4 linked regions of the Homo sapiens genome follow. The protein of the gene in region 1 purifies or fractionates together with the protein of each later gene. This does not show direct contact. Each region holds a gene or a part of one and is shown in the gene's direction. Other genes may lie near its edges.

What was found.
Region 2: the proteins of HAGH (region 1) and LACTB2 fractionate together in Homo sapiens (co-fractionation; one large-scale study listed by BioGRID). This does not show direct contact.
Region 3: the proteins of HAGH (region 1) and ACSS3 fractionate together in Homo sapiens (co-fractionation; one large-scale study listed by BioGRID). This does not show direct contact.
Region 4: the proteins of HAGH (region 1) and PYGM purify together in Homo sapiens (affinity purification with mass spectrometry; one large-scale study listed by BioGRID and IntAct). This does not show direct contact.

What each region holds. Positions count from the first base shown.
Region 1 is NC_000016.10:1,809,826-1,817,810, reverse strand, and holds part of HAGH (hydroxyacylglutathione hydrolase, mitochondrial isoform 1 precursor), read left to right. Parts: intron 1-539; coding exon 540-643; intron 644-816; coding exon 817-918; intron 919-7,977; coding exon 7,978-7,985. UniProt on the Homo sapiens protein: Thiolesterase that catalyzes the hydrolysis of S-D-lactoyl-glutathione to form glutathione and D-lactic acid.
Region 2 is NC_000008.11:70,656,676-70,664,660, reverse strand, and holds part of LACTB2 (endoribonuclease LACTB2), read left to right. Parts: intron 1-1,381; exon of another isoform or gene 1,382-2,763; coding exon 2,764-2,927; exon of another isoform or gene 2,928-4,516; intron 4,517-6,778; coding exon 6,779-6,905; intron 6,906-7,985.
Region 3 is NC_000012.12:81,082,721-81,090,705, forward strand, and holds part of ACSS3 (acyl-CoA synthetase short-chain family member 3, mitochondrial isoform 1 precursor), read left to right. Parts: intron 1-7,985. UniProt on the Homo sapiens protein: Catalyzes the synthesis of acetyl-CoA from short-chain fatty acids. Propionate is the preferred substrate. Can utilize acetate and butyrate with a much lower affinity.
Region 4 is NC_000011.10:64,748,220-64,755,891, reverse strand, and holds part of PYGM (glycogen phosphorylase, muscle form), read left to right. Parts: intron 1-333; coding exon 334-445; intron 446-536; coding exon 537-619; intron 620-1,055; coding exon 1,056-1,199; intron 1,200-1,546; coding exon 1,547-1,639; intron 1,640-1,866; coding exon 1,867-2,013; intron 2,014-2,209; coding exon 2,210-2,373; intron 2,374-2,704; coding exon 2,705-2,819; intron 2,820-3,387; coding exon 3,388-3,489; intron 3,490-3,820; coding exon 3,821-3,968; intron 3,969-4,236; coding exon 4,237-4,295; intron 4,296-4,425; coding exon 4,426-4,567; intron 4,568-5,308; coding exon 5,309-5,516; intron 5,517-7,672. UniProt on the Homo sapiens protein: Allosteric enzyme that catalyzes the rate-limiting step in glycogen catabolism, the phosphorolytic cleavage of glycogen to produce glucose-1-phosphate, and plays a central role in maintaining cellular and organismal glucose homeostasis.

The sequences.
Region 1 (7,985 bases):
ACAGAGGCCTGGGCAGTGATGGGGTGGGGATGCCGTCCTGAGGCCGAGGCCGGAAGGAGCCTGGGTGCGCCTGAGGTGCCCAGCGGTGTGGGCCGCATCTTCCGCCATGGGTGAGAGGTGGTCCCGCTCAGCTCAGCCAGGGTGGTGAGACCTTGGTCACAGGGTGGCGCTGGCTGCTGGGGCCAAGGGAAGATGGGAGCCAGGCATGGGCCTGAGAGGGGCTGCTGCGTGTTTGGGGAGAGGGCTGGATTTGTGAGGGTCTCAGAGCCACAGTTGGTGGGATTGGGGGCAGTGAGGGAGGAGTGACTTGGGTTTCGGGTCTGCTCGGCCAGTTGGGTGGTTGGACTGTCAGCTGAGACTTGGAAGGAGATGTGGGAGCCGGAATGCAGGGGGGCTGAGTCTGGGCAGCCGTGGCCGGAGGGCAGCCAGGGTTCGGGGCCTGGGCCTTGCCGGTGAGTGTCACCCTGCTCCTGGCCCCCTCCTGAGTCCTAGCCACCAGCCTCAAGTGGCCCCCACCTCGTGGCTGTCCTTGTTTCCAGGTGACACCTTGTTTGTGGCTGGCTGCGGGAAGTTCTATGAAGGGACTGCGGATGAGATGTGTAAAGCTCTGCTGGAGGTCTTGGGCCGGCTCCCCCCGGACACAGTAGGCAGCGCCTCCCTGCGGGCCGGGGTGTGGGGGGCCTTAACCAGGGCGGGGCTGCTCTCCCTCCTGGCACCCTCTCACCGGACACCCCCCGGGGGCATCCAGGTCCCGTCCCTGAGGACTTTCACAGGTGGTAACAGCCTTCCGAGCTCACCTGTCACCTCTCTCCTCAGAGAGTCTACTGTGGCCACGAGTACACCATCAACAACCTCAAGTTTGCACGCCACGTGGAGCCCGGCAATGCCGCCATCCGGGAGAAGCTGGCCTGGGCCAAGGTGAGTGGGGCCGTCACTGCGCAGTGCCTTCCTGTGGGCTGCTCAGGGCCGCTGTGCACAGCGGGGTCGCCAGAGTGGGTAGACACTCACACTCTGAGCCCAGAGAGCAGGCCTGGGATTCAGGCCAGTGTGGCCCAGCTCGCCCTGCACGGCAAACCCAGGGGTTCTATGGAGATCCCTCTGCCTCGGAGGGTCTGGAGTAGGCCTCAGACGCTGCGTGTGTAAAAAGCGCCCAGCCTGTTCCCACATTCTGAGCAGTAGGGTCAGGCTGGCAGCACGTGGCTCTGCTGGCTCTCCAGGCCACAGAACGTGGCTCTGTGTCCAAAGGACTCTTATCTCCACGGTGGCCCCACGTGAGCCTCCATGGCGTAGCCCAGGCCAGCTGGGCCAAAGTCTGCCAGGAGCAGGACGGGGTTCTCCAGGGGTGTGTTTCCCCGAATTCACTGGAAACGGTGTCACAAGCACGCACGCCTGGGTGGTCTCAGGCGTGGGCTCCCTCTGCTGAGTGGAGTGAGAGTCGCTGCCTCTGACAGGGTTGTTTTAAATAAATCACCCGGTTTTTTGAGCATCTTTTTCAATTTCTTAGAGTAGAGGTTAACATTATTTTACAGTATTTACTCATGCAAATTCCAACTCTAAATCAGATGAATCATAAATACTCATCTTTTTTTTTTTTTTAATTTTTTTTTGAGACGGAGTCTCCCTCTGTCGCCCAGGCTGGAGTACAGTGGCGTAATCTCGGCTCACTGCAACCAGCACCTCCCGGGTTCAAGAAATTCTCCCTGCTGGCCGGGCGTGGTGGCTCACGCTTGTAATCCCAACTACTCAGGAGGCTGAGGCAGGAGAATCGCTTGAACCCAGGAGGCAGAGGTTGCAGTGAGCCAAGATCGCTCCACTGCGCTCCAGCCTGGTGACAGAGCGAGACTCCGTCTCAAAAAAAAAAAAAAAAAAAAAAAAAAATTCTCCCTGCCTCAGCCTCTTGAGTAGCTGGGATTACAGGCGCCAGCCAACACGCCCAGCTAATTTTTCTACTTTTAGTAGAGATAGGGTTTTGCCATGTTGGCCAGGCTCGTCTTGAACTCCTGACTTCAGGTAATCCGCCTGCCTTGGCCTCCCAAAGTGCTGAGATTACAGGCGTGAGCCACGTCACCTGGCCCGTGTGTCTGTCTTGAGTGGACAGATTGCAGTTTGAGGAATGTTGATGATGTTTGCACTTGTGTAATCCCCTCCACAGTCCAGATGTGGAACTTACCACTACCCCAAAGGCTCCTGTGTCCCTCCCATGTGGCGTCCCCGCCAGCTGTTGCTCTGCTGTGACCTCAGGTCACTTTCTAGTTTCCCATGAACAGAATCTCATTGCTCCGTCATCTCTGTGGCATTCTCGGCCCCGCTGATGTTGGTGAGGGTCAGCCACGCTCTTTGCTTCTGAGTAGCCCATTGTGTGGAAATGCTACAATTTGTTTATGCATTTGTCTGTTTCCAGTTTTTTGCTATTTGAATAAAGCTGCTATGGACATTTGTGTACAAGTCTTTTGTGAACATGTTTTTATTGCTCTTGGATACTACCTAAGAGTGGAATTGCTGTGTTGTGTGGTTAAAGGTGTGAACCGTTTTCCAAAAATGGTTGTACTGTTCTACAGTCCCCCACCAATGCTTGAGTTCCGGGGCCTCCATGCTGTGCCAGCACTGCTTGGTGTTGTCGGTCTCTCCAATTTTTGCCATTCTAACTTGCCTGTGGTGGCGTCTCACTGCCTTTAAAATGTGGATTTCCCCATGTGACCATCTTTTCATGTGTGTCGGCCTTTGGATGCCTTCTCATGAAGTTTATGTTCAATCTTTTGTCCATTTTAAATATTGGGTTTGGCCTGTTGGGCTGCTCTTGTAAGAGTTCCTTATATCATCTGGAAACAAGTCTTTGTGAGATATATATATATATGTGTGTGTGTGTGTGTGTGTGTGTGTATATACATATATATATTTATTTGTTTGTTTTTTGAGACAAAGTCTTGCTCTGTCGCCCAGGCTGGAGTGCAGTGGTGTGATCTCATCTCACTGCAAGCTCTGCCTCCCGGGTTCAAGCCATTCTCCTGCCTCAGCCTCCCAAGTAGCTGGGACTACAGGTGCCCGTCACCACGCCCAGCTAATTTTTTGTATTTTTAGTAGAGATGGGTTTCACCGTGTTATCCAGGAAGGTCTCGATCTCCTGACCTCGTGATCCACCCGCCTCGGCCTCCCAAAGTGCTGGGATTACAGGCGTGACCCACCACGCCCAGCTGAGATATATATTTAAAAGATGTTTTTCTCTCCCAGCTCATGGCTTGCCTTTTCATTTTCTTAACATTGTCTTTTGGAAAATAGTTTATAGTTTTGGTGAAGTTCCATTTACTTATTTTTTGTTTGTTTCTTTTTTTTTTTTTTGAGACGGAGTTTCACTCTTGTTGCCCAGGCTGGAGTGCAGCGGCGCGATCTCAGCTCACCGCAACATCCACCTCCTGGGTTTAAGCGATTCTCCTGCCTCAGCCTCCCGAGTAGCTGGGATTACAGGCATGCACCACCACACCCGGTTAATTTTGTATTTTTAGTAGAGATGGGGTTTCTCCATGTTGATCAGGCTGGACTCGAACTCCTGACCTCAGGTGATCTGCCCACCTTGGGCTCCAAAAGTGCTGGGATTACAGATGTGAGCCACTGCGCCCGGCCTACTCAATTTTTCTTTTATGTTTCTTGTGCCCTTTCTAAGATATCTTTGCATACCCTTAGCTCACAAAGACTTTCTCCTGTGTTTCTTCCTAGAAGTTTTAAAGTCTTAGCTTTTATATTTACAAACAATTTACAGTGTTCCCTTTCAAGATGGTGTTTGTGTGTGGTGCGAGGTGAGGGTAGAGGTTCACCCTCTCGCAGTGTGATCCCGAGGTGTTCAGGGCTGTCTGTCGAAGGACTGTCCTTTCCTCCCTGGATTGCCTTGGCACCTTTCTGAAAAGAATGGGCCCTCTATGCCCGAGTCTGCTTCTGGTCTCTGCTCTGTTTCGTTGGTCTCTATGACTTGCCACGGTGTCCGAGGACAGCACCTTGATGACTGTAACTCTGTGCTGAGTCTTGGCACTGGTATGTGTGAATCCTCCAGTGTTCTTTTTCAAAATGGTTTTAGTTGTTTTAAGCCTTTTACATTTCCGTTTTCAGAATCATCTCGTGAACTTCTATCAGAAAAGCTAGCCTGGCTGCTGATTGGGACTGTTGTGATAACTGATGTGGCGAGAATTGCGATCTTAACATTGAGTGTTTCTGTGAGCTTTCCATCTATGAATGTCTTTAGCTTTTCTCAGCAGTGTTTTGAAATTTGCGTGTTCAAGGTCTTGCACGTGTTACTAAATGGATCCCTAAGCACTTCTGGTCATGATTATTTGTTGATACTAGTTATAAATACAGTGGATGCGTATTAACTTCCTGGGTGTCTTAGTCTGTGTGGTGTTGCTATAAAGGAATACTTGAGGCCGGGTGACTTATAAAAGGAGGTTTATGTGGCTCATGGTTATGCAGGCTATATAAGCAGCATGGCCTGGGCGTCTGCACCTGGTGAGGCCTCAGGCTGCTTCTGCTCATGGCAGAAGGCGAAAGGAGCTGGTGGGTGTGAAGCATGTGGCCAGAGGAAGGAGAGAGTGGGGGAGGCAAAAGTTTCTTTTAAACAACCAGATCCTGTGGGAACTAACAGCAAAAACTCGCACTTGGAGCAGGGCACCAAGCCGTTCACAAAGGATTCCCCCCATGATCCAAACACCTCCATTAATTGGGGATCAGATTTGAGCATGCGTTTGGAGGGATGGACATCCCAGCCGCAGCCCCGTGTGAACACCCAGGAGAAGGGAGTGGCCGGGCTGGACGGGAGGTGTGTTTGACTTTTAAAGAAACTGCCAAACTCCCCTTCCCCGGTGCTTGTGGTGTTTGCTTTCCTGCTGGGAAGGCGTGGGCACACCAGCTGGTCCGTGTCTTTCGGCACACCACACGGTGGAGCCAGCCCACGCGGTGGAGCCAGCCGTTTGAAAGGAGGTGCTGGAGCCCAGTCCCTGGTGAGAGGCCGCCTCCTGCAGGGCGCCTCCCATTCTGCGGCCTCTGGTTTTCTTAGCAGTATCTTTTGAGCCAACATTTTTAATTTTAATGAAGTCCAATAGATTCTTTTATGCTTCATTCTTTTTTGTCTCCCATCTAAGAAATCTTTGTTTATCCCAAGGTCAAAAAATTTTCTCCTGTATTTTATTTTTGGAATTTGTATAGTTTTAAAACTTAGTATGAACTCCCACCCCCCAAATGTCTGCTGGATCTGTAATGATATTCCTGCTTTCATTCCTGATTTTGACAATTTGTGTGTTTTTTTTTTGTTTTTTTTTTTTTTTGAGACAGCGTTTCGCTCTTGCCGCCCAGGCTGGAGTGCAATGGCGCGATCTCGGCTCACCGCAACCCCTGCCTCCCGGGTTCAAGCGATTCTCATGCCTCAGCCTCCCAAGTAGCTGGGACTACAGGCATGTGCCACCATGCCTGGGTAATTTTTATATTTTTAGTAGAGATGGGGTTTTACCATGTTGGCCAGGCTGATCTCAAACTCCTGACTTCGTGATCTGCCCGCCTCAGCCTCCCAAAGTGCTGGGATTACAGGCGTGAGCCACTGTGCCTGGCCTGTCATTCTTTTTTTTTTTTTTTTTGGTTGGGGAGAGACAGCGTCTTGCTCTGCTGCCCAGGCTGGAGTGCAGTGGCACAATCTCGGCTCACTGCAACCTCCGCCTCCTGGGTTCAGGCGATTCTGCTGCCTCAGTCTCCCGTACCTGGGACTACAGGCCTGTGCCATCATGCTTGGTTAATTTTTGTATTTTTGGTAGAGAGGGGGTTTACACGATGTTGCCTAGGCTGGTCTTGAACTTCTGGGCTCAAGTGATCCTCCTGCCTTGGCCTCCCAAAGTGCTGGGATTACAGGCATGTGCCAACCACACCCGGCCTCATTCTTTTTGATAGGTGTAAAATATACTATTGCGTGGGTGTCACCCATAAATCATTTTACCAATCCCCATAGGAGGGACGTTGAGAGTTTTCAACTCCTTTTGCACCCTGGAGTCCAGAACCCACACGAGGTGGAGCTCTTCTGAGCTGTGCTGCAAGGACTGACCTTATTTTTTTATTTTTATTTTTTTGAGGCAGAGTCTCACTCTGTCACCCAAGCTGGAGTGCAGTGGTGCGATCTCGGCTCACTACTGCAGCCTCCGCCTCCCGGGTTCAAGCGATTCTCCTGCCTCAGCCTCCCAAGTAGCTGGAATTACAGACATGTGCCACCACGTCTGGCTAATTTTTGTATTTTTAGTAGAGACGGGGTTTCACCATGTTGGCCAGGCCGGTCTCAAACTCCTGACCTCAGGTGATCCACCTGCCTCAGCCTCCCCCAGTGCTGGGATTACAGGTGTGAGCAACCGCGCCCGGCCTGTTGTTCTTTCTTTGGGAGACAGTGTCTTGCTCTGCTGCCCAGGCTGGAGTGCAGTGGCATGGTCTTGGCTCGCTGCAGCCTCCACCTCCTGGGTTCAAGTGATTCTCCTGCCTCAGCTTCTCCAGTAGCTGGGATTACAGGCACCCGCCACCACACCCGGCTGATTTTTTCTATTTTAGTAGAGATGGGGTTTCACCGTGTTGCCCAGGCTGGTCTCGAACTCCTGAGTTCAGGCAATCCACCCACCTCGGCCTCCCAAAGTGTTAGGATTACAGGCGTGAGCCACTGCGCTCGGCTGACTGACCTTATTTTTGTCTTTAAATGCTTCGTACTTTGTAGGAAAAATAGCTAGAACATTAAAACTCGTTTTAATAGGTAACCTAAAAGCTTATGACAATTTGTACTTCCTCTGTTTTAAAGGTCTCCTTAGAAGTGTTAACTTTGCTTCCCTCGTAGGAGGCAGAGGGAGATTTCTTAGGATTGAGAATGTTGGTGGGAACACAGGGAATATTTTAAAACATTCTCAGATTCTTTTCGCCAGAAGGGAAGAACAGATTAGTGAGAAACCATCTTGGCATCTACCAGACCCCCGCTTGGTGCAGCTCTACCAGCTGAAGAGTCACTCACCGACACCACTGCCCATAGCGGGTGGGGAACCTCGGGGGTGAGGCGCGGTGGTCTTGAGCCTGTGCGTGGGCACCAGCAGCTTCTGTCAGAGCTCTGCCCTGAGGCCCTCCTGGTGCGGCTGCGGTAGAAGGGCCGGGGCTGTGTGGAGACCCCGCTGTTGCCGCCCTGTGTTTTCCTGCTAACTGTTGGCCCCGTGGCTGGGTTTGCATTCTCCTCCCCCCGCCCCCACCCCATCTGCCCTGGTCAGTGCTGGTCGGAAGGGAGACCATCTCCATCTCGAGAGGAGGTGACCAGCTGCCTGCCTGCAGGGGCTTGGGTGGCCTCCCCTGCTGCTGGTCCCTGTGCCCCTCCTCCCCGTGCTTGCTGTGAGGCTGCAGCTGTGGCGGTTTCTTTTCTGTGTCTCCTGCATTGCTGTTACCTCCATAATGTGAAATGTAAACCATGTGAATGAAAAGGAAGCTCCGTCCCTGTCGTCCTCTCCAGGCCGGTGCGGGAAGGCGGATGTGTGGCTCATCCCGGACGCTGGCTTCTCTTCCCTCTTCCACACGCGCACACCCGCCGGGCTCTGCTCACCTTGCCTTCTCAGCCTTGTCAGTCGGGCAGTGTCCTAAGGTTACCAGGAGGTGTTCTGAAGCATTTTTTGAGACGTGATGTCGCTGTCACCCAGGCTGGAGGGCAGTAGCACAGTCTTGGCTCACTGTAGCCTCGACCTGTGCTCAAGCGATCCTCCCACCTCAGCCCCCTGAGTAGCTGGGACCACAGGTGCCTGCCACCATGCCTGGCTAGTTTTTTGTATTTTTAGTAGACACAGGGTCTCGCCATGTTGTCCAGGCTGGTCTCAAACTCCAGGGCTCAAGTGATCCATCTGCCTTAGCCTCCCAAAGTGCTGGTATCACAGACGTGAGCCTCCGTGCCTGGTCTGCCATCCTGTGAAGTTCCCGTGATAAAGTGGTGCGTTTCTCTTGCAGGAGAAGTA
Region 2 (7,985 bases), on another chromosome or scaffold:
TAGGTTTTATAGTATCTAGACACCCCTCCTTTGTTCTGAATAGATTGTATTAATTCCAGAACTTTTTTCTGTTTTCTTTCTTTTGAGAGCCCTTCTTTTATCAATTCCAATTTTGTTAAACCAAGACAGGACCATTAAGAGACCTAAAACTGGAGCCCCAGAAACATGTTCTCCACTACCACAGTCGTATGGTCACTCACACTTTCACCTGCAAACAACCAGCACAGGCATTCTAAAAGATCTGTTTTCTTTGCTACTAGATTTTATCAAATTCATGTATCAACCCTGTTAATTTTGTCATGACTTTTGATCAGTGTGATGTGATCTGGTCATTAAATTACAGAAATTTATATTCATTTTTAGATTAGGAGATATTTCAAAACAGAGTTTCTTGGGAGGACGGGAAGGCAAGGATTAAGAAATAATTTTAAAAGTGGTGGGGCCTTGATGGATTGAAAAAATTTGAGCCTTACCTGAAGCATGGAAGTATTCTTTTTGTGAGGACCAGAAGACCCACAAAAATAGTCCCAGTGACTCTACGTTAGGGGCAGTGAGAATTTGTGGTAAATAACTGCAAATGCATGGAGGCAGCCAAAATCTAGGATGGGTGGGCTAGAGAGTATTATTGGAGGTATCATAGTATTATAGTCTTGTGTATTTTAATTTAGCATAACTAAATATGCACAATGCTAAGTGCAGTACAATGTATTATGGATATAGAAATAAATCCATAAATTCCTTGAACCAAACAGACAAGCTTTCTGCCCTGAAGGGACTCAAATTTGTACGGTGGTGTTGGTTGTGGAAATAGGCAATAAAAAAATAAATATGTAAATACATAATATATTACATGGTAATAATTGCTATGGAAAAAAAGCAAGATAAGATGGCTAGGAATAGCATCAGAACTCACTCTGACCCGAGTCAAACTCATCTCAAATTTGCTCCCTCCAGGGTTTACCTTCTTGATTAATGGCACACCAATCCTCCCACCTAGAAACCTCAGAGTCGCCAACTGTTTCCCTCCTTCCACATCTCGTTGTTTAACAAATATCCTGGTGGTTGGTTGATTGTACCTTCTAAATGTTCTTAAAGCCATCTCTTCCTTACATTTCCACTACCAACAGAACCCTATAATAAATGCCCTCTTGGTCCAGTGTAACCATCTGGTCTCCTGTCTCCGGATAGGACAGTTCAACACTGTGTTTCTGAAGGACATCTACTGTGCTACAGAACATAGGGTGCAGATAGAAGCCAATGGGCTATGAGGCCATTACCCTCCTCCCTTATGAGAGGCCAGTTTGTTTTTGTTGGCTCTGGGTCTCAGGGAGTAGGGTTAGGGAAACAAACCAATAAAAAATAACCATCCAGTTACTCACTGTTTAATTTTAATGCTTTGCAAAATGCTTTCTATGGTATGTTACTTTTATTGTTTATTTCCAGTCATATGCAGTTCCCCTTCTCACCAACAGTTGAATGTAAGCAGGGTTGTTGTGTCCTGCTTACTGCAAGAAACAAATTTGTAGCACATATTAGGTAATCCATAAACAGTTATTGATCAATTAATGAATAACTCAGACTTTTCATCAAGGCTAATCTGTCAGCCAGCCTGAATTATTGAGGTGTTACTGTGAAACAGTATGAGTGAAGAAGTTTGTGAATTGGATCTTGAGCTGGGCATGGTGGCTCAACGCCTGTAATCCCAGCACTTTGGGAGGCTGAGGTGGGAGGATTGCTTGACCCCAGGAGTTAAGAGACCAGCCTGGGCAATATGACGAAACACCATCTCTACAAAAAATACAAAAATGAGCCGGGCATGGTGGCACATACCTGTAGTCCCAGCTACTCAGGAAGTAGATGTGGGAGAATCGCTTGTGCCCAGGAGGTCAAGGCTGCAATGAGCTGAGATCGCAACACTGCACTCCAGCCTGGGTGACAGAGCAAGACCCTGTCTCAAAAAAAAAAGAATTGGATCTTGAGGAACATGTCACCCCCATGTCTTTAGTTCAGCAAAACTTCACAGAGAAAGGCCACCTCATAAAATCGTGAGGAAGGGCAAACAAAATATAAGGAAGATTCAGAACCACAAGCAAAAAATACAGCTAATGGGGTTGTCTAAGTAAAGAAAGAAAATAGCTCAGATGTTTTTCCCATGCTTCACTAAAGCCTTCATTTTCATGTGTCAGGGTGCTAATATAAAACTTCAGTGATAAGTTGTATATCTAGTGCCAAAGACTAGTTTCTTTAGGGGTGCCATTGAATCAAAATCTTTCATATCTATAAAACTTTTGAAATATACTGAGATATGAGATCTCAAAGGCAGATAGATAAAAGCACATATTCTGGCATCAGAATACCTGGGTTTGAAAGCTGTTTCTGCCATTTATCTGTAGAGTAACCTGGGCAAGTTACTTCTAAATATAATGATAAAATATCTACTTTAAACAGTTGTTACGAGGAATGTAATTGGTAAAATATGTAAAGTCCTTGGAATGGTGCCATGTTTATTTTAATTGCTATGTAAATGTTCAAGATGACTGCTATTATTCCTTGTTCAGACTTATATTTAGCTCTAATTTTTCTCAGAAAACTTTCTTAGGGTGAGATTACTGTAGTTAAGCTGAAGTGATGTAGCTGGTTTTTGTGCATGTTAAAAGTAAAATAATTTTTGCAGTTTCTTTAATGTAAATTATCTGTGTGCAAAATAATGCTAATGTCAACGCAGTGTTCCAATTGTGTGATTATCTTCCATTTAATTTTCAGGAGAATCCTCATTGACACTGGAGAACCAGCAATTCCAGAATACATCAGCTGTTTAAAGCAGGCTCTAACTGAATTTAACACAGCAATCCAGGAAATTGTAGTGACTCACTGGCACCGAGATCATTCTGGAGGCATAGGAGATATTTGTAAAAGCATCAATAATGGTAAACAGAAAACATTCATTAAGCTCATTGAGGAAAGCCGTGTTTGGAGAATAATTTATTTCAGTTACAGAGCTAAGTAGTCTATAAACCATTTACTAAATACCTCAGTTTTAAATGGTACTTTTAGAAATTGATTAGACTGTTGAATACTGTGCCTAGTTTTAACAAAGGAGGAACGGAAATCCTGATTTCTGTTTCAAATCCTCAATTTTACTTTAGTGTGTGAGTTACTATTCAGACTTAATCATAACTAACAACTGTTGAGCATTTACTCTGTGCCAGGCACTGCACTAAACAATTTATGTGGATACTGTGAGGTAGGTGCTCTTATTGTTCACATTCTAACAGATTATCTCAGTCCTTCTGTAACTTTAAGGCAGTTACTAAGATATGCTGAAATTCAGGCAATATATCATTGTATTGATAATTCATTGTCCCTGAAACCTATACAGTACTGACATTTTCTATCTCTTTATTTCCTCATCCCACCATCATATACCTAGATTCATTCATTCATTCATTAAATATTCCAGTTACTGTTATATGTCAGACAGTGTTCTTGGCACAAGGGGTATAGCAGTGAACAAAACAGACTCTGTTCTCATGGAGCTTTCATTCCAGTAGGGAAGGTACTGGTAAATAAATAATAGATCAGGCTGGGTGCAGTGGCTCATGCCTGTAATCCCAGCACTTTGGGAGGTCAAGGTGTGTGGATTGCTTGAGCTCAGGAGTTCAAGACCAGCTTGGGCAACATAGCAAGACCCTGTCTCTACAAAAAAAGTACAAAAATTTCCCGGGTATGGTGGCGTGCACCTGCAGTCCCAGCTACTCGGGAGGCTAAGGTGGGCAGATGGCTTGAGCCAGGGAAGCTGAGGCTGCAGTAAGCCAATATTGTGCCACTGCACTCCAGCCTGGGCACCAGAATGAAAAAAAAAGGGAAAAAAATAGATCAGATAATCATGGGTGCTATGCAGGAAAATAAAGGTACAAGAAGAGAAAGGGAAGAGAGCGTAAAGTGGAGAAGGGCAAGGGCTGTTATATCCAGAGTGGACAGAGAGAAGGAGCAAGCTCCTGGCAGGAAGGCCTGCAGGCAAACAGCATTGCAGGAGCAAAGATGGTGGAATGAGAGTGTGGTTGGCACATTCAGGGCACAGTAAGGAGGTCAAGAACATTCATGCTTATTTACATTGAGCTAGTATTTTTAAACATTTGTAAAGATCTGCTTTTTTAGGCCTTGTGACTACAATTGGGACATCTCAGCTACCACACCCAATATCACCAGGCTGCCAGTTATAAAAAACTGGCAACCAAGCTTCCTTACCCTCTTAGCTCCTTTCTTCCAATCTAAGGGGACTGTGTACCATAGGAACTTATAATCTGTCAGTCTGACTTTTCCTTCTCTTGTCTTACCTCTTTTAATTTTGTCTTACCTCTTCTTTTAATCTACCTATTAAATCTTGTGAATTAAAAAACTATTTTATGCCAGGGACGGTGGTGTGTGCTTATAATCCCATCCACTCAGGAGACTGAGGCAGGACGATAGTTTGAGCCCAGCAGTTCAAGACCAGCCTGAGCTACAAAGTGAAACCCTGTTTGCGGGAAAAAAAAAGAAAAAAAAAAAGAAACTACTCTGTGATTTCTTAATTAGCTTTGTCACCTCAGCCAACTCTTCAGATTTTTCAGTTTGAAAAATTAAAATGTTTATGGCCCACTTTTTTCCTTCATAAATCAATTTTATTGAGCTTTAATTTACATACATAAAATGTGCCCATTTTAAGTGAACAGTTTAGTGAGTTTTAACAAACATCAATACCTATGTGACCATTCCAGTCAAGATATGGAACACTTCCTCCATTCCAAAAAGAGGTCCCCTCATGCTGCTTTGCAGTGATTTCCCCCATCCCCAGCCTCCAACAACCACTCAAATAGGATATGTGTTTTCATTTATATTTGCACATAATTTTGAAGACAGATACAAAGTTATAGTATGACATTTATTTTGTAATTTTGATATAATTGTGATTTTTTAATTGTCTACTAAAGGTCTCATAAGCAGAAATGTAATGCCTCCATTTCTTTACTGAAAGATAAAATTATACAGCTTATAAACAAAACAAACAAAAAAACCTCAATATCTCAATCTTGTTATATAATGTCAATTCCCAGAAAAGCATATCATTGTTTTCCTTCGGCCTCTTAGATACAAAATAATAGAGTTTGGGGTTGGAAGGGGAGGTGGTATTTGTTGTTGTTTCTTTTTATTTCAGTGTTTCTGTCTCCTTTATCCTCAAACTAGCAAATTTCTGTGCCTTGTCCATTTTTCTTTGAAATATCTCTTTCTCCCTTCATATTTCCAGTGCTACCGTCTTAACCCTACTATTCATTACCTTCTAGCTGGGAAATTGTAGTCATTCCCCTCCTGGGCTCTCTGATCTCCTTTTGGTCTCCCTACCCACAGCCGCCATATTGATCATCAGTTAACACTATTTCATTATCTTACTAAAGAGTGTGCAGTGATTACACGTGGTAAAGTTTAAATTCTCCTATTTTGTAAAAGGCAATTTGAGACCCTTTCTGATCTGAGCTTATCTTACCTATCCAACTTTATCTCCACTCTTCCTAGCCAGTATTTTGCAGTAGAAAGTTGGTAGCATTATGTTGTCACACATATGTCATGCTCATTCTCATTTTAATGCTTTATTTTTTTGAGACAGAGTCTCGCACTGTCGCTCGGCCTGGAATGCAATGGCGTGATCTTGGCTCACTGCAACCTCCGCCTCCTGGGCTCATTCGATTCTCCTGCCTCAGCCTCCCGAGTATCTGGGACGTTAGGTGCACACCACCACACCTGGCTAATTTTTTTGTATGTTTAGTAGAGATGGGGTTTCACTATGTTGGCCAGACTGGTCTCGAACTCCTGACCTCGTGATCCTCCCACCTTGGCCTCCCAAAGTGCTGGGATTACAGGTGTGAGCCACCACGCCTGGACTTAATGCCTTTTCTAATGCTGTTCCCCTTACCTGCAAGTCCTTCTCTGTACCTTTACCCATCCTGCTCATTCTGTAAGTCACACCTCAAGTTCTATCATATTTATAAATCCTTTCCTAACTCTCTCTGAACTCCTGCTGCCTTTATTAGCCGAATTGTCCATTTAATATTCATTAAATGGTACCAAGTATAGTTCTTTGTTTCATGTTTGTAAGTTTTAGTTTCCCAATCAGGACAGCTTTTAAGAACTTTGATATCACAGTGGTTGTATTCAGTATACCTAGTATACTGGTTAGTTAATTGGCACTCAATTGTTAATTGGTTAATTAATTTATTTTCTTTGTGTCAGTGAAGGGTGGTATAGATTTAGCTTATTTTAAAGGTTTAATATCTTAGCCACTGGTTTGGGGCTTCATTTCAGTACTTGTAGCAAGGACCTCATGCTTTCGTTATTAATTAATGTTTATCCTTTTGTTATTAATTACTGTCATGACACCTTTGCTACATGTTAGGCACCTGGATAGAGAAGAGTTTCCAGGTTCTGTATTAGTGCCTCTTCAACACTTGTCAGGATGCCGAAGCTAGCTACTTTTAAATTTTTTGTATAAACTAGGACTGACTCAAAAAATAGAGGCTTTCATGTAGACCTAGAGGGGCATGAAAGAATGAAGAGCTGTTTGGTTGAAAGATATGAAATATTTACATCCCAGAGATAACCTGCTGTAATTCATCCCATTTTCTGTTGTCTCTTAATGTTAATATTTTATGCAGTCATTCACAAGTGTTAGCTCTATGAAAGTTGATCTCTTAAAAGGCTTAATTATAAAGTGTGAATTAATATATTTTATATGTTTTATGACTAGACACTACCTATTGCATTAAAAAACTCCCACGGAATCCTCAGAGAGAAGAAATTATAGGAAATGGAGAGCAACAATATGTTTATCTGAAAGATGGAGATGTGATTAAGACTGAGGGAGCCACTCTAAGGTAAGTAAATGTCCCTTAGCCAGGGAAGGTGAAGAGTCTGTGTATGTGTGTTATAGAAAAGGATGGAAGGATCCCAGCATTTTGGGAGGCTGAGATGGGAAGATCGTTTGAGCCCAGGAGTTCAAGACCAGCCTGGGCAATACCAAAAAAAAATTTAATTAGCTGAGCATGGTGGCACATGCCTATAATCCTGCTATTCAGGAGGCTGAGATGAGATGATTGCTTGAACCTGGGAAGCAGAGGCTGCAGTGAGTCAAGATTGTACCACTGCATTCCAGCCTGTGCAACCGAGTGAAACCCTGTCTCAAAAAAAAAAAAAAAAAAAAATAGAAGATCTGTGCATATGTGCTGGTATGTGTAAAGAGTACATCAGGAAGGATACAAAAGAAATCCAATAAACATTGCTTACTCTGGGAGGAGAAAATGAGTTGCTTGAGAAATGAGAAAAGAAAGACTTCACTCTTTATTAAATTGTTTATTTGAATCATATGATTACCATTGTTTTAAAAAATAAAATTTACACTTTAAAAAATAAGTGTTGTCTCCCAAGGAGGCTTAGGGATCTACCTATCAATTCAATTCAGGGCTTTCCCATATTCTCACTTCCCAAAGATGACCCATACCTAAATTAAATAAGTTTTAGGCCTGACCGATCATACCTCATGACCTATCTGAGGGTTTCAAAATGGTATTTCAAACTCAGTTATTGTAAAACTGAACTCCTCTCTCCCCCACAATCTGCACCTGTTTTCTGATCTCAGAACATCCACTTTTCTCAGTATGTAAGACTTTACTCATTCTTCTAAGACAGAGGCTTCAGGATTACCTTGCACTGCTCTTCACCTTTACCATCCCCCTCCCCTTGCCCACCACACTAATCAGGTTAGTTTTTACATCAAAAATATTTGTCAGCTGACACAAACAAATGGAAACACATCCCAAGTTCATCTCTGGGTAGGATCAGTATTGTGAAAATGACCATACTGGCAAAAGCAATCTACAAATTCAACACAATCCCCATCAAAATACCACCATCATTCTTCACAGAATTAGAAAAAACAATTCTAAAATTCATATGGA
Region 3 (7,985 bases), on another chromosome or scaffold:
TGTAAATTTCCTATTCCTTCTTCTTCACTGGGTCAATACAGGCTTGAGTTCAACCGTAGCTTTGCCGCTTACTCTGAGAAAGCTTCAATACCTTTATTTGCAAAATTAGAATCATGACGGTATCTATTTCTAAGGATTAAATTGGGTGAGAGAAGCTTGTAAAGTGCCTAGGACTGTCCCTGACACATACAACTAGATATGATTATCTTTGGAATATGAAAGAAATACTCCCGTGAGCTAATGTGGTCCAATAAGTTTTGAGGGGAAGCGGTAGCATTTAGAGTGAATCTTAAAGTAGGACTTAGGAGGAAAGTCATTTATGTTCAGGGAACAAGATGACAAAAACATAGAGGTAAGAAAAGCCAAGTGTCCTTAGAGGATAGTTATAGTAGACCAGCTGGCTTTTAGTGGCTTGTCTGAGTTGCTGGGACTTACTTTCAGAAAATAGTTTCAGCCTGCTTTTAAAAGGCTTGGAGTAGCAAGCTAAGGCATTTGCATTTACTTCTTAGGTCACAGCAGGGCTGAAAGCCTGCAGGTAGGCTTTGTTTGACCTACAAGTTTTGTTTGTTTAATTTGTTGGCATTTAAATATTGGAATATAAAAATCTAAATTTCCTGTAAAAAATTCAGCTTTTGGTCTTTTTTTTTTTTCTTTTGAGACGGAGTCTCACTCTGTCACCCAGCCTGGAGTGCAATGGCATGATCTCTGCTCACTGCAACCTCCATCTCCCCGCTTCAACCATTTCTCCTGCCTCAGCCTCCCAAGTAACTGGGATTACAGATGTGCACCACCACACCCAACTGATTTTTGTACTTTTTTTTAGTAGATTTGGGGTTTCACCATGTTGGCCAGGCTAGTCTCGAACTCCTGACCTCGTGATCCGCTCACCTCGGCCTCCCAAAGTGCTGGGATTACAGGCATGAGCCACCGTGCCTGGCCCTTGGTCTCCTCTTTAAAGAAGAAAAAATGGGCAGGGCGCAGCAGCTCACGCATGTAATCTCAGCACTTTGGGAGGCTGAGGCAGGCAGATGACGACGTCAGGAGATCCAGACCATCCTGGCCAACATGGTGAAACCCCATATCTACTAAAAATACAAAAATTAGCTGGATGTGGTGGCACACACCGGTAATCCTAGCTACTTGGGAGACTGAGGCAGGAGAATCGCTTGATCTAGGGAGTCAGAGCCAAGATTGTGCCACTGCACTCCAGCCTGGTGACAGAGTGAGACTCTGTCTCAAAAAAACAAACAAGAACAACAACAAAAACCCGGAATGTCTGTCGGCGATGGGTCAGTATTCCTGCACAGCAACACTCGGCTGGAACTGAGCAGCTGCTGATCCTTTAAATGGTGCATGTGCTTGTTTGTTATTCACTGTCCTCACCCCTATTGCATTATACTTTGCCTGTCCCAGCCATTAACTTTTCCATTGTGATCATTTTTGTTTGCAGTGCCTCGTAAGGCAGTAATGATCCATGGAAACATTTTGTTAAGAAGGTGATAGGATGAAAGTATTATCAGAAGCCAAGTTTGACTTCAGATTTCAATATTTCTTGGTAGGTTGGGAAATGAGGGATATTGGGAAACATGGAGTAATGAGAACATAAAATAATGTGACTAATGAACTAGGGTAATAGCAGGAGGTGTAGAAAGAGAGGAACTTCAGGAATAAAAATTAAATTACACATAGTGACTTTTTGGCAGCGGGATGCAGGGAAGTAAAGACATGGTAACTGTAAGAATCTGACTTAAATGTCCAGATGAGGAATTGATGGGGCAATTAAAGTTACGAGGCTGAAAACTGGGAGAGAACTTGATGTAGAATTATAGATTTTAGTATAAATCTTAAAGAGGTGAGAGGTAGAAGCTTATGAAAGTTGAAGTGAAAGAGAGAAAGAAAGGGAAGAGAAGAGGAAAATAGTAAGGACTGAACTTTGGGAAAAAGTGGGAGAAAAAAAAACTATGGAAATGGATGAGACATTCAAAGAAAGAGGAAAAGAAAGAGCAAGATATTCTAGTGTCATGCATTGTAAAGGAGAGAAAAGATAAAAATAGTGGTCAAGGGCTCTAGAGATGCTTTGAGGCTATTGAAAATCAAAAAAATATCTGCTGTGACTCAGAGATTCTTGATGACTTTCTATAATATGATATCAATGGTGAGATAAGGGCCAAAGCCAGAATAGCACATTACAGAGTGAACTGGTATAGGCAAAAACATTCCATGAGGATATTCGACAGTGACAGGAAGATGAAACAGGATAATATATGGCAGTATGGTGGTATCTGGGTCAAGTAAAATAAGTTTCTTCCTCATTCCTTATTTCCTCTCCTCCCTTTAAGAAGAAATCTATGTTTAAATGCAGAAGTGAAGAAATTATGAAATAGGAATGAAGGGAATTTTGCTTGTTTTGAAGCCTACTGCTCAACAGGACTCCTTGTTTTTGCAAGTTGAACTTTGTGTGGTTTCTTATGTTAATTTTTTGCTTTTGCTGCTACAAGTTACTGAAAGAAACAGGTTGCAAAAGTCTCAGAATTGGTATAAAGAGTACTCAGTAGATCTGTTTGTTCTTTTTAAATACTACAGTGATTCTAGTGAGCTAAATATCTCAATATTTGTTTGTGAGTCTGACAGGGAGGATAAGGAAGCAGCTGAAAAGGGAAAAGATAATGAATATTTGTTGAGTCCTTTCTCTGAACTATCAACTATACAGTAGAGTCACATATTTCCATTTATTCCTTCCCCAGATGCTGCAAAGTTAGTATTATCATGCCTTTTCTACATATGAGGGAATTGAATCTTAAGGCCACACAGCTAGTTAGCAGAGGCTAGACCTGGGTTAGTATTAATAGCTCCAGTGGCTAAGCCCAGAATCTTTTCCTCCAAATATCAAGGGAACTGTTCCGAAGGCAGGTTGCCAAATCTTGGCCAACCTGAAAAAGATTTTTGGCTACTAAATTGAAGGAGACCAAAGAGATATGAATTAAATGCAAAAGGTAGTTTCTGAATATTTTCACCATAATTGATATTTTTGAGGACAAGTAAGAAGCCAGAACAGGATTTCAGGATTGGATGGTGGTAATGTGTCAATATTAGTTTCCTGAAGTTGATGGTTATAGTATCGTTCTCTAGAAGAATGTCCTTATTTATAACAATTACATATTAAATTATTCTAGGGTTCTTGGGCATCATGTCAGTAAATGTTTCAAAGGGAAAAAAAAAGTACTTTATCTTGTAATCGCAAATTTTCTGTGAGTTTGAGATTGCTTCAAAGGAAAATAAATACAAATATAATGGGGATTTTATGTATCCAGAAAGCAATTTAATCCCCCTATTGAACTTTGGCTCTTTGGCAAACAAATGCTCAGCTACATTAAACTGTTTGGGAAATTCAGTATTTGTCAGATATTTTTAAAATTACATTTAATTCTGGTTTGAAGGTGAGAGTGTTATATAAAGAGGAAGAATTTTTCTCCTTTTGACAAACTCTAAATTAAATGAATTTATTCATAGCGTTGTACACAGTAAAGGTATATTTAAAATATAAAATCATCATTATTTTATAGATTTAAAAATATTTTAAGAAGGTATCTGCTTGGCATGAAAAATTGCCTGTTAGAAATAAGGCCTCTCAAAATAACCTCATCAAGAAAGACCAGTTTTAAAAGATGGGCCTTATTTTATATTCTGAAGGTCAGCAGCTTGGTACTGTGCCGTATCTAATTTTCTCAGCCTGTCATGCTGCTGAACCTTCAGGACAGAACAGAGTGAACTACAGGAATGCTGCAATTACATAAGCAAGGATGGATTGCCTGGCAAATGGCGCAATCAATGAACAATGGAAATTCAATCGGCTGTGACTGATCAACTACTAGGTGTTGGGGGAAAATCCACACTCTTATCACCGCCTGAAAGGTGGCTTACTTTTCTTTTGTCATGCCACATATAGTATTAGTTGAAAGGACAAAAAAAATCCAGTGGTTGAAGTTGTTTGCTTGTTCTTCTTCTTCTTTTTATTTTTTTTTATTCTACTTTCATAAGCAACAAGCTGCAACTCCATGAGGGAGATCATTGCTTTCCACTGTGGTGTGACATTTGTAAGAAAAATGTGTAGGAGGCTAATGAATCTTTGCAATTATATATATGAATGTAATAACCTCTCTAAATTACAGTTTCAAGTATATGTGAATGTGGAGCTCAAATCCTTTATCTAAACTACGTGGATAGGGAACTTGTTATATTAAAGGTATTAATTATATTTGTTTTTGTCAGTGTTTTAGTTGAATGAGGTAAGGAACAGTGCATAGAAAGGATAGGTATTATTTTTATAATATCTTAGGAAAATTAAAATTTGTGAATTTTGAGTTTGAAGGAGTCCAATTGGAAATACGAGGATAGTAAAAAACAGAAGGTCTTTCAAATACTAAATTAGAGAGGGACAGAGTTTAATTATATGGCTTTAATAATTTAAAACATTAATTGCCTTAAGAGGGAGGAAAGCAATTAAAGTCTGTAGGTCTTTGACTTATGACCTGACTCTGGACAATAGGAATACCTTCTCTTAAGGTGTTTATGGTAGAATAACAACACTTGCCAAGTATAATCTTTCAAGGTGTCATTGCTAAGTGGATGCAGCAGTTAAGTAAAATAAATTTGGTAAGATGAAGAAGAAGGAGCAGGAGAAGAAGAAGAGCAGGAGGAGGAGGAAGGAGGAAAGAGGAAGAGAAGAAGAAGAAAAGAAGGAGGAAGAAAAAGAATGCTTAATTTCTACTGTAGATCTGGCCAGTATAGATATCTGTAGAAAAATTTAGTAAGACTAAAAAAAAAATTAGTCACTCCGTATTATTGTCCATTTGCTAAATAACTTTAATCTAATGAGTGCATGGGAGCTTAGAAAAGTCCACTTTTGCGCTAATCTCACTTTGCATTCTCTCCATACATTTTTTCTTATTTTCATAGAATTCCATTGATTTTCAATTGAGAGGCAAGTATTTTTCTATAATAAACCACAAATACCTAGACTGTGCCTTCCTCTAACTCTCCCTCCCAACTCTCCCTCCTTAAGTACAGATGAAATTTGCCACTCTTATCAATGGGATTTGTTGGATACCCTAATTTTGGTGGTTAGGAGGAAAAAGTATTGAGAATTAGTTAGTGGAGAAAACAAACTGATTTCTGGTTCAAAATCTTGGCTCTACTCTTTGAACAGTATCTTGGTCCAAATAATTATAATACGGAAGAATTATAAAATGCATACTGTGATGGGTATTACTATTTTTTGTGTTGTTTCTTTTCTCGTCTGTTCTCTTCTGCTAATATGTAGGAAGATTGGTCTTCCCCACATATACGTGATTATGCGATTAGCTTTGGCCACTGCAATAAGAGGAGCAAGGCTTTTCACTTAGTTAATTGCCAGAGCTTCAATTCTTAGTTCTTTCTCATCTACCATGGCCATTTGGAAGTACATGTAGAATAGAAGCAGTTTGGATTGCTAAGCAAAAACGTATAGATGACAATGTTTTGGGGAGTCTACCTGAACCCACAATGGAGTGGCGTGAGTGAGAAATAAACATTTATTTTTGCAAGTTACTGAGATTTTGCAATCGTTACCGTATGGCATAATCCAGCCTGTCCTTACTGATTGAGGGGTAAATAATAACTTTATGACTGTTGGGATAATTTAGTCTGCTAAAGTACATAAACATTGTCAGGTATATCATAAAATAGCTAACCTTTTTATTATCTGTTATCATAAAAACAGCTGTTATGAAAACAGCTAACAACTAAGCTTTTTATTGTCTCCATAGTATGCGCTAGATACAATACTAAGTGTTTTAATTTGTTTAATATTTATAACAACTCTGTGAGGCAGGGCCAATTTTTATTCTTGTTTAAAGGGTTTGGAAATACAGTTTCTTAAGAAACTTGCCTAAACTTATAAAACTAGTAAATAGCAGAGCTAAGATTTCAACCCAGGCTGGCTGAATTTAGCATCTGTGCTCCTAAATATATTCTATTGCTTGTTGAAAATAGTCTCAATTAATTTTAGATTTTTAAAAATTTTTTAACTCTTCTCCTCTGAAACCGTTTAAAGTTTTTACTTTTCTTTTTAAATAGTGATATAAGAAGAGTTTTTAAAGTTTGGGTCTACATCTCAAAAACATTCTAGATATGGAATAAAAAATAGCTGTTCTTTGAAAAAATAAACTTTTAATTTTTTATTGTGTATGACAGTCCTAAAGGTGGGAGGAAGGGAGCTTTAAATGAGTTGACAGCTTCTTTAGAAATGTTTCCTGGACAATAGAAAGCAATATTAATCTCTTCCTTAAAACTACTCTGTTGATTTTCTGGCTTAAGGAAAATCTATAATGACCACATTATTCATTGCTTATAGTATGCTTTAATGTTATTTTTATAAGAACATGATAAATAGCCTAATTAATTTGTCTAATTATGAACACTTGGAAATTTACTCCTCCAACCTCTCAATAAAAAAATAGGATTTCTTTATATGTTAAGTTGTTGGTTTTATTTACTTTTAAATACGTTGATGTGTACTATTTCTTTTTATTTTTCTTTCATTCTTTTTTATCTTGATCCTAATTCCCTTCTGCATTTTCAAGCAGAAGATATGCAGGTGGAGAAACCTTGATTAATGGCATATGTTAAGTGCAGAGATATATTTCTTGGAAATTGCATTGCAACTGGCTCCCTTAGTTCTAATAATATCCCATTTTTTAGGAATCCAGTGCAAGGTCAATGAGTTGTGTCTCTCACCTGTGTTATTCCATAGATATTGCCAAACTTTGGAAAACAAATGATCTAAAAATGTTAAATGCTTCCTTTGAGTGTTTATGGGATGAGTCAAAAATATATGTGCAGAGTCTGTAATAGAATGAGAAGGAAACTAACATGTGATTATTCTCTAGCTTGTTACTGAGTCATTCCTTTCTGTAACCTGATGTATTATCGTCAATAATGATAATGGTGATAGTAATAATAACAAAACAATGACAATGGCAAAGACTATAGTACTGCTGTTTTGGTACTAATTATGAAGAATTTGATTTGTGTTGGGCCCTATGCTAATCACTATATGTATATTATCTCTTTGAATCTTCCCAACAACTCTTATAATGCATTTTTATAATACTGTAAACAAATGCACAGAAAGATAAGTGGCTTGTCCGAAGTTATACAGTGGTGGACTTAGTTTTTTCAACCCAGTTGGGTCACACTGTAGAGCCTAATTTCAGTTATAAGTTGTAATTATGCTCTCTACCTTCTGTTTTACATAGCAGAACCTAGAGAGTGAAAAAGCATGAGAGCAATGTAGCATTCTTAAAAATGTTAATCGGGATTTAACTTCCCTTTGCTTTATTTGTTCTCTGTGTTTCTGTGTGTTTTCCACTCTCCTCTTATCTTAGAGAAATGTAAGTCCTCACTGTTTTCCCAGAGCCAACTTGCACATGTCTTTTTGATTTCGTCGCCTTTCAATGTCTCTAGGGATTTTATCTTAAAACCTTTAGTGGTTCTTTCCTAAAAAGCATTTCAATCTTGTTTTCTTTTAAGCAAATTTGGCAAAAATGCTCAATGCTCATCTACATTTTGTCACTTCACATCTATTATGTGAGCTCATGCTCTATTGATACTTCTACCAATAATTTGACACATCACCACTCAGTAATAGGAGAGTAGGGTTCAGGTCTAAATTACATTTGTGATCTTCGCAGCAGAATGCACAAAGCCTTCTGTATATATCAGTTGAACTGACATTAAAAACTTCACCATATACAGATTTACCTTCTAATCCATCTCCTAAATCTGATTTTTTATATAAATTGCAGGTAGATACTACCTGAATCATCTATCCAATCAGAACCTCAAATAATCCACAAATCCTCTATCAAGGAACCAAAGAGTTTGAAGTTTTGTCATCTAAGCTTTGGGTCTAAGCTTTATTTTGAGGCAGTTGGCTTCCTTTGCCT
Region 4 (7,672 bases), on another chromosome or scaffold:
CAGGCTGGCCAGCCCAGCCCCCATTGCTGCAGAGTGGTCGCCAACAGAGCCCCTCCTGGGTTCCGGGCTTATCACCTGCCTCCTTCCATTTTCCTCACCACCGTCTGCCCAGGCAGGGCTTATGGGTGTCGGGGAGGTGTTGAGGGTGTCTTTGCTCTAGATGCGGTCCAGAGAGACTATGGGGTTTGCTCATGGTTACCCAGCTCATCGATGCTAGACAAGGACAAGAGCCTGGGTCTGCAGAGTGCAGGGATAAAGCCTTGAGTCCCAGCCCTGAGGGGAGGGAGGCAATTGCCAGGGCTGGCCAGCTCCTGACAGGATTGCCCCCCGCAGGTGGTACTGGCCATGCCCTACGATACGCCCGTGCCTGGCTATCGCAACAATGTTGTCAACACCATGCGCCTCTGGTCTGCCAAGGCTCCCAATGACTTCAACCTCAAGGACTGTGAGTTCATCCACTGGTAGCCAGCAACCCCAGCTTGCCCGCCGGCCACGCCCAGCGCAGGCCTTACCCTGTCCCCACTTTTGTCCCTCAGTCAATGTCGGTGGCTACATCCAGGCTGTGTTGGACCGAAACCTGGCGGAGAACATCTCTCGTGTCCTGTACCCCAATGATAATGTGCGTCACCCCCTGGGCTGGGGGCTGGAAGCCTGAGTCCTTGGCAGCAGGGGTCAGGGAGAGCTGGGGAAGGACACTTGCTGGTGCCCTAGTCACACCCAGGGCATATTGCTGGCCTTGTGCATCCTGTGCCCCCACCTCAAGTCTTTTGAGTGCAAGGACACCTGAGTCCTGAGGAAACTGGGTTAGCGAAGGGCACTTTGGAGGGGCTGTTCCCTGGCGACACCCACAACACACTCGGTTCTTGTACCCCTCTTCCTGACACTGTCTCTCGCCACTAGTTCTTGGTGGAGGAAAGGCCCCTGGGTCCCAGAGAGGGGGCCGGCTCAGGGCTCAGGGGTCCCGGTATGGGTGGGAGTCCCTCCTGGCCACACCCACCGCAGCTTTAGGCCATGCCCCCACCGCCCTGACTCACGCTGCCTCATGCTGTCCCCAGTTCTTCGAAGGGAAGGAGCTGCGGCTGAAGCAGGAGTATTTCGTGGTGGCTGCCACCCTCCAGGACATCATCCGTCGCTTCAAGTCTTCCAAGTTCGGCTGCCGTGATCCCGTGCGCACGAACTTCGATGCCTTCCCAGATAAGGTACCATGCGTGTGGAGGGCGACTCTGTGACCGGACAGTGTGTGCTAGGCCTCTCCCTCCAGCCTCGGCCTGCCTGCCCCATGTAATAGATAAGGGAGTGGAGACTGGGAGTGTGGGAGGGTCAGTTGTTCAGGATTCACAATCCACAGGCTCAGAACCTGGGCTTCCCTCCTCCTCCCGCCCCACTCCCCCCATTCCTCCCACCCCCATGAGCACCGGCCTGCCTCTGCCCACAGCCCAGTCACAGAACCGTGCTGGGCTCTCTGGGGGCCTCCAAATGGCATAGGGCAGTGACCATAGCATGGAATGTGGTTTGGAGCCCAGACTGACCCCTCCCCCTACCCCAGGTGGCCATCCAGCTCAATGACACCCACCCCTCCCTGGCCATCCCCGAGCTGATGAGGATCCTGGTGGACCTGGAACGGATGGACTGGGACAAGGTGGGCTTCAGGGCCCCTCTGCCCCATCTGATGCTCTCTGCCTCGGGGTTCCCTTCCCAGTTTGGGAGCGTGGGAGGATATGAATGGAGTGAAGGGATCAGAGCCTGAGGCCAGAGGGACCGTCCTGGAACCTGGCACTGCAGTGGGGGGGCCCACTGGGATGCGTAGTGTGTGAGGAGACCCACTGGGCTGAGGTCAGCATCCTGACTGCCCACCCCGTGTGCCAGGCGTGGGATGTGACAGTGAGGACCTGTGCCTACACCAACCACACGGTGCTGCCCGAGGCCCTGGAGCGCTGGCCGGTGCACCTCTTGGAGACGCTGCTGCCGCGGCACCTCCAGATCATCTACGAGATCAACCAGCGCTTCCTCAACGTGAGTCCGGAGGCTTGGGGGATGGTGTGGGGGTGAGGGGGGACACCCAGTCTGGGCCTGGGAGTCGGGGCGTCCAGCCAGGGCCCTGAGACTCTGGGGCAGTGGGGGCACTGGGCAGAGCTCTGGGGGTGTGGGGCTGGGGACTGGGGATGGGGGTTCCTGGGTCTGGTTCTAGCTCTGGGCTCTCTGGGCACAGCGGGTGGCGGCCGCATTCCCAGGGGACGTAGACCGGCTGCGGCGCATGTCGCTGGTGGAGGAGGGCGCAGTGAAGCGCATCAACATGGCACACCTGTGCATCGCGGGGTCGCACGCCGTCAACGGCGTGGCGCGCATCCACTCCGAGATCCTCAAGAAGACCATGTGAGCCCCGCTTTCCAGATCCCGCCCCTCTCTAGGCCCCACCCACTCCACGCCTCTGTCACACAGAAGCCCCGCCCTTCACCGACCACTCTCTGGTCTCTGGGCCCTGGCGCCTTTCACAGGTGGCGTCATTCTTACAAGCACAGCAGCCCCTTCCAGTGCCGCCCTGTCCTGAGATGACCTCCTCTTACACACAGCACCCCCAACCTTCCCCAGGTCTGCATTCCCTGCCCCAGGCCCCTTTCAGCAAGACACCAGGGTAGGGGCCCCAGGGCAGAGGCCTTCATTGTACAGGGGTGAGTGGTGACCCTCGTCCAACCTCATCCTGCAGCTTCAAAGACTTCTATGAGCTGGAGCCTCATAAGTTCCAGAATAAGACCAACGGCATCACCCCTCGGCGCTGGCTGGTTCTGTGTAACCCCGGGCTGGCAGAGGTCATTGCTGAGGTGAGAGGCCACCGTAGGGCCAGTAGAGTCAACATGGGTCCCTGCAGGGATCAGCTGGGTATGGTCGTGTAGGTGGTTCACTGCATCAGGGCTCCCAGCTGAAGGCTGAAATCCCTCCTGCACTGTGTTCCCCAAGCCTCGCATCCACCTGGAGGAGGGACACCATCTTAATTGCATGAGGGTGCTCTGTGTGCTAATGGAGGCCCTGGCTGTGGAGGTGAACACAGCAGAGGGAGTCATCCATGGGTCACATCTGAAGTGAGCCTGGAAGGGGGCAGATATCTGGTAGGGAAGGCGCAAGGTCATGCTGGCGTTAGGAAAAGGCCAGGAAGCCAGGAAGGCCTGCTGGGGTCAGGTGGGGTCAGCCATCAGAGCTCAAGGACGGGAGGGGAGGAAGGTGCATGGATGCCCCGTGCCCCATCTGGGCGGCTGGAGGAGGAGGGGCTGGGAGGGCCCCCAGAGCAGCCTGCTGGGTGAAGGGGGCTTGGCTGACCTGGAAATGGCCCCTTCTGTGTTGGGAGGAGGGAGGACATGGGGATGGGCTTGGCTGAGAGCCGTCTTCCCATAGCGCATCGGGGAGGACTTCATCTCTGACCTGGACCAGCTGCGCAAACTGCTCTCCTTTGTGGATGATGAAGCTTTCATTCGGGATGTGGCCAAAGTGAAGCAGGTGGGGAGAGATGCAATGTGGGACAGCTGTGCTGTGTGGAGAGCGCTGGAGGGGCCAGATGTCTGGGTCAGGCGTGGCAAATAGAGCTCATCTCTCCTGCCAGCCCAGGCCGTTGGTGGAAGTTGCCTGGAGTCTGTGGTGGGAAGGCATCATCTGACCTCACATGAACAGTGCTGACATTGATTAGCAATGTCTGCCCTGGTACAGGAGTGGACAGAAGTAGCCAGTGAGCCTCCTGGTAGCCATCCTCCTGGGGCTGACTGGAGTGTGGACTGTAGGATTTCCTGAGGCTGTGGCCTGTTGGTGAGCCCTTCCCCGTCTCTGCCTCCAGGAAAACAAGTTGAAGTTTGCTGCCTACCTAGAGAGGGAATACAAAGTCCACATCAACCCCAACTCACTCTTCGACATCCAGGTGAAGCGGATTCACGAATATAAACGACAGCTCCTCAACTGCCTCCATGTCATCACCCTGTACAACCGTGAGTGGCAGCCACTCTACCCTGTCTCTCAGTGCTCCCCCGTGTTCCTGCGGCATAGTACATATTGCCCAACCAACATCTCCTTTGGACTTGGGACTACTCTTGGGACATGGAATTATCCCCATTTCACAGATGGGCAAACTGAGGCTAAGAGAGCATAGCAAGTGATTGTTCGAGTCAGGCCTACGGTGTCCCAGCCCAGCCTCTGTCAGGAGCTACTACCCAGAGGGAAAGGTAGGCCCACTGGATCCCTCTCGTTTCTCCACAGGCATCAAGAGGGAGCCCAATAAGTTTTTTGTGCCTCGGACTGTGATGATTGGAGGGAAGGTGAGAAGCCAGGCTCCAGCCCTGGGCTCCCGTCCTTTGATATATCCAGGTTGAGGTCAGCCCAGCTGAGTTGCAGGATAGGGGGTGGGGGGCCAGGCAGTAGAGCTGACCCCAGACTTTGTCCCCTCAGGCTGCACCTGGGTACCACATGGCCAAGATGATCATCAGACTCGTCACAGCCATCGGGGATGTGGTCAACCATGACCCGGCAGTGGGTGACCGCCTCCGTGTCATCTTCCTGGAGAACTACCGAGTCTCACTGGCCGAGAAAGGTGGGTGCTGCCAACAGGGACCCTAGGGAGGCTCTGACTAGTTCAGTCTCAGGAAGAGGTATCAGTCGTCTCTTCCTGGGATACTTGTACTTGAAAGAAGAATCTGGAGAGGGCAATGCTTAAACCATGAGGAGGCCAGGCGCAGTGGCCCATGCCTGTAATCCCAGCACTTTGGGAGGCCAAGGTGGGTGGATCACCTGAGGTCAGGAGTTCGAGACCAGCCTGGCCAACATGGTGAAACCCCGTCTCTACTAAAAATACAAAAATTAGCTGGGCGTGATGGCAGGTGCCTATAATCCCAGCTACTTGGGAGGCTGAAGCAGGAGAATCACTTGAACCTGGGAGGCGGAGGTTGCAGTGAGCCGAGATCACGCCATTGCACTTCAGCCTGGGCAACAAAAGCAAAACTCCGTCTCAAAAAACAAGAGGAAACAAAACAAAGCAAAAACCCCATGAGGATGCCCTCTAATGGTGGAATTTCAGGCAGTACAGGGTGAAATTACCTTCAAATCTGCAACAGAGGTGGGGAAATCCAGGTTGGACCTAGATGGTCAAGAATCAACAAGAGGTAGAGGGCAGTGGGGGTGCGGTGTGAGAGGGAGGCTTGGCTGGTGAAGACTGGGAGTTTGGGGTGGGGCGACTCTGAGTCCAGCTATGCCTGGGGCCAGCCTAATCTGAGAGTCCCCAGCTGGTGTGAGGGTCTTCCCTGAGTTGACTTGTCCCCCTGCTGCCACCCCACAGTGATCCCAGCTGCAGACCTCTCTGAGCAGATCTCCACTGCGGGCACTGAAGCCTCAGGCACCGGCAACATGAAGTTCATGCTCAACGGGGCTCTGACCATTGGCACCATGGACGGGGCCAATGTGGAGATGGCAGAAGAGGCGGGAGAGGAAAACTTCTTCATCTTTGGCATGCGGGTGGAGGATGTGGATAAGCTTGACCAAAGAGGGTATGGGGGTCAGGGTTCACGGGCAAAAGACACCCAGGTGTGGCTGCTGGAGAGTGGTGCTGGGAGCAAGCGGCACGTCTGGAAAGACTGGTCCAGGCCCAGCAAGGTCTTGGTCATGGCCAGCAGGATTCTGGGAAACTTTAGAGGGCGCTTACAGCAAATAAGGTTAATGAAATTGGAAAAGAAAGAAGTAATATAGAACTGAAGGAAAAGGAAGAGAATATTATATCAACCCTAAGAGATAATATTGTTTGGGAAATGGAAGTAAAAAAATCCTTGCTCTACGCCGGGTGCGGTGGCTCACACCTGTAATCCCAGCACTTTGGGAGGCCAAGGCGGGCGGATCACAAGGTCAAGAGATCCAGACCATCCTGGCTAACACGGTGAAACCCCATCTCTACTAAAAATACAAAAAATTAGCCGGGCGTGTTGGCAGGCGCCTGTAGTCCCAGCTGATCGGGAGGCTGAGGCAGGAGAATGGTGTGAATCCAGGAGGCGGAGCTTGCAGTGAGCCGAGATCGCGCCACTGCGCTCCAGCCTGGGTAACAGAGTGAGACTCTGCCTCAAAAAAAAAAAAAAAAATCCTTGCTCCCTGAAAGCCATGGGCAAAAGGGAAATATGGGCACAGTAGTTACAAGGGGCCTATGGTCAGAAACAGTTCTTCAGAGAAGACATTATCCTGGCATTACATTAAAAAATTTTATTTTATTTTATTTTAATGTATTTTTTTTTTTGAGACGGAGTCTCGCTCTGTCACCCAGGCTGGAGTGCAGTGGCGCGATCTTGGCTCACTGCAAGCTCCGCCTCCTGGGTTCACACCATTCTCCTGCCTCTACCTCCCGAGTAGCTGGGACTACAGGCACCTGCTGCCACGCCTGGCTAATTTTTTGCATTTTTAGTAGAGACGGGGTTTCACCATGTTAGCCAGGATGGTCTCGATCTGCTGACCTCGTGATCTGCCTGCCTCGGCCTCCCAAAGTGCTGGGATTACAGGCGTGAGCCACTGCGCCCGGCCTTTTGTTTTGTTTTGAGATGGAGTCTTGCTCTGTCACCCAGGCCGCAGTGCAATGGCACGATCTTGGCTCACCGCAACCTCCACCGCCCGGGTACAAGCGATTCTCCTGCCTCAGCCTCCTGAGTAGCTGGGATTACAGATACCCACCACCACGCCCAGCTAATTTTTGTATTTTTAGTAGAGACGGGGTTTCATCATTTTGGCCAGGATGGTCTCTATCTCCTGACCTCAGGTGATCCACCCTCCTCGGCCTCCCAAGTGCTGGGCTTACAGGGGTGAGCCACTGCGCCTGGCCTATTTATTTTTATGTTTTTGAGACAGAGTCACTCTGTCACCTAGGCTGGAGTGCAATGGCATGATTTTGGCTCACTGCAACCTCCGCCTCCCAGGTTCAAGTGATTCTCTCACCTCAGCCTCCCGAGTAGCTGGGATTACAGGCACCCACCATCACGCCCAGGTAATTTTTGTATTTTTGTAGAGATGGGGTTTCATCATGTTGGCCAGGCTGGTCTTGAACTCCTGACCTCAAGTAATCCACCCGCCTCGGCCTCCCAAAGTGCTGGGTTTACAGGCGTGAGCCACCGCGCCCTGCTTGAATCCTGATATCTTAGCATTGGAGAGAGATTTTCCATGTTATTAGTCTTCAAAAATATTTTAAATGTTTGTATAACATTCCATCCTATGAGCATGTCACAACTTATTTAATCAATTCCATGTGGCTGGACACTAAGGTTAATTTCCGGTTTGTTAAATATTACTGTGATGAGCAACCTTTTAATGTCTACGTCCACATCTGATGATTTCCTTAAGATAATTATCAGAAGGGTGATATTTCTGAGTTAAAAAGTATGAGTTCTTAAGGCTCTTGATACAGATTGCCAAACTGCTTTCCAGAAAGTTTCTCCCAGTTTACACTCCCACAACAGCTTCCCAGAGTTGGCATTAAACACTGAAAGAAGTGTCTCCTGTGAGGCTTCACTAGAAAGCTGGCTGTCCCATGGGCAGGAGGGAGCTGTGAGATGTTGTGAGCATGGTCCCGCATGCTCAGAACGAGGCCTGGAAGAACCCTCTGGCTGCAGGATGGAGACAGTGCTGGAGGGGGCAGGTGGGGGACCACTGTGGGGGCTGACACCATAATGCA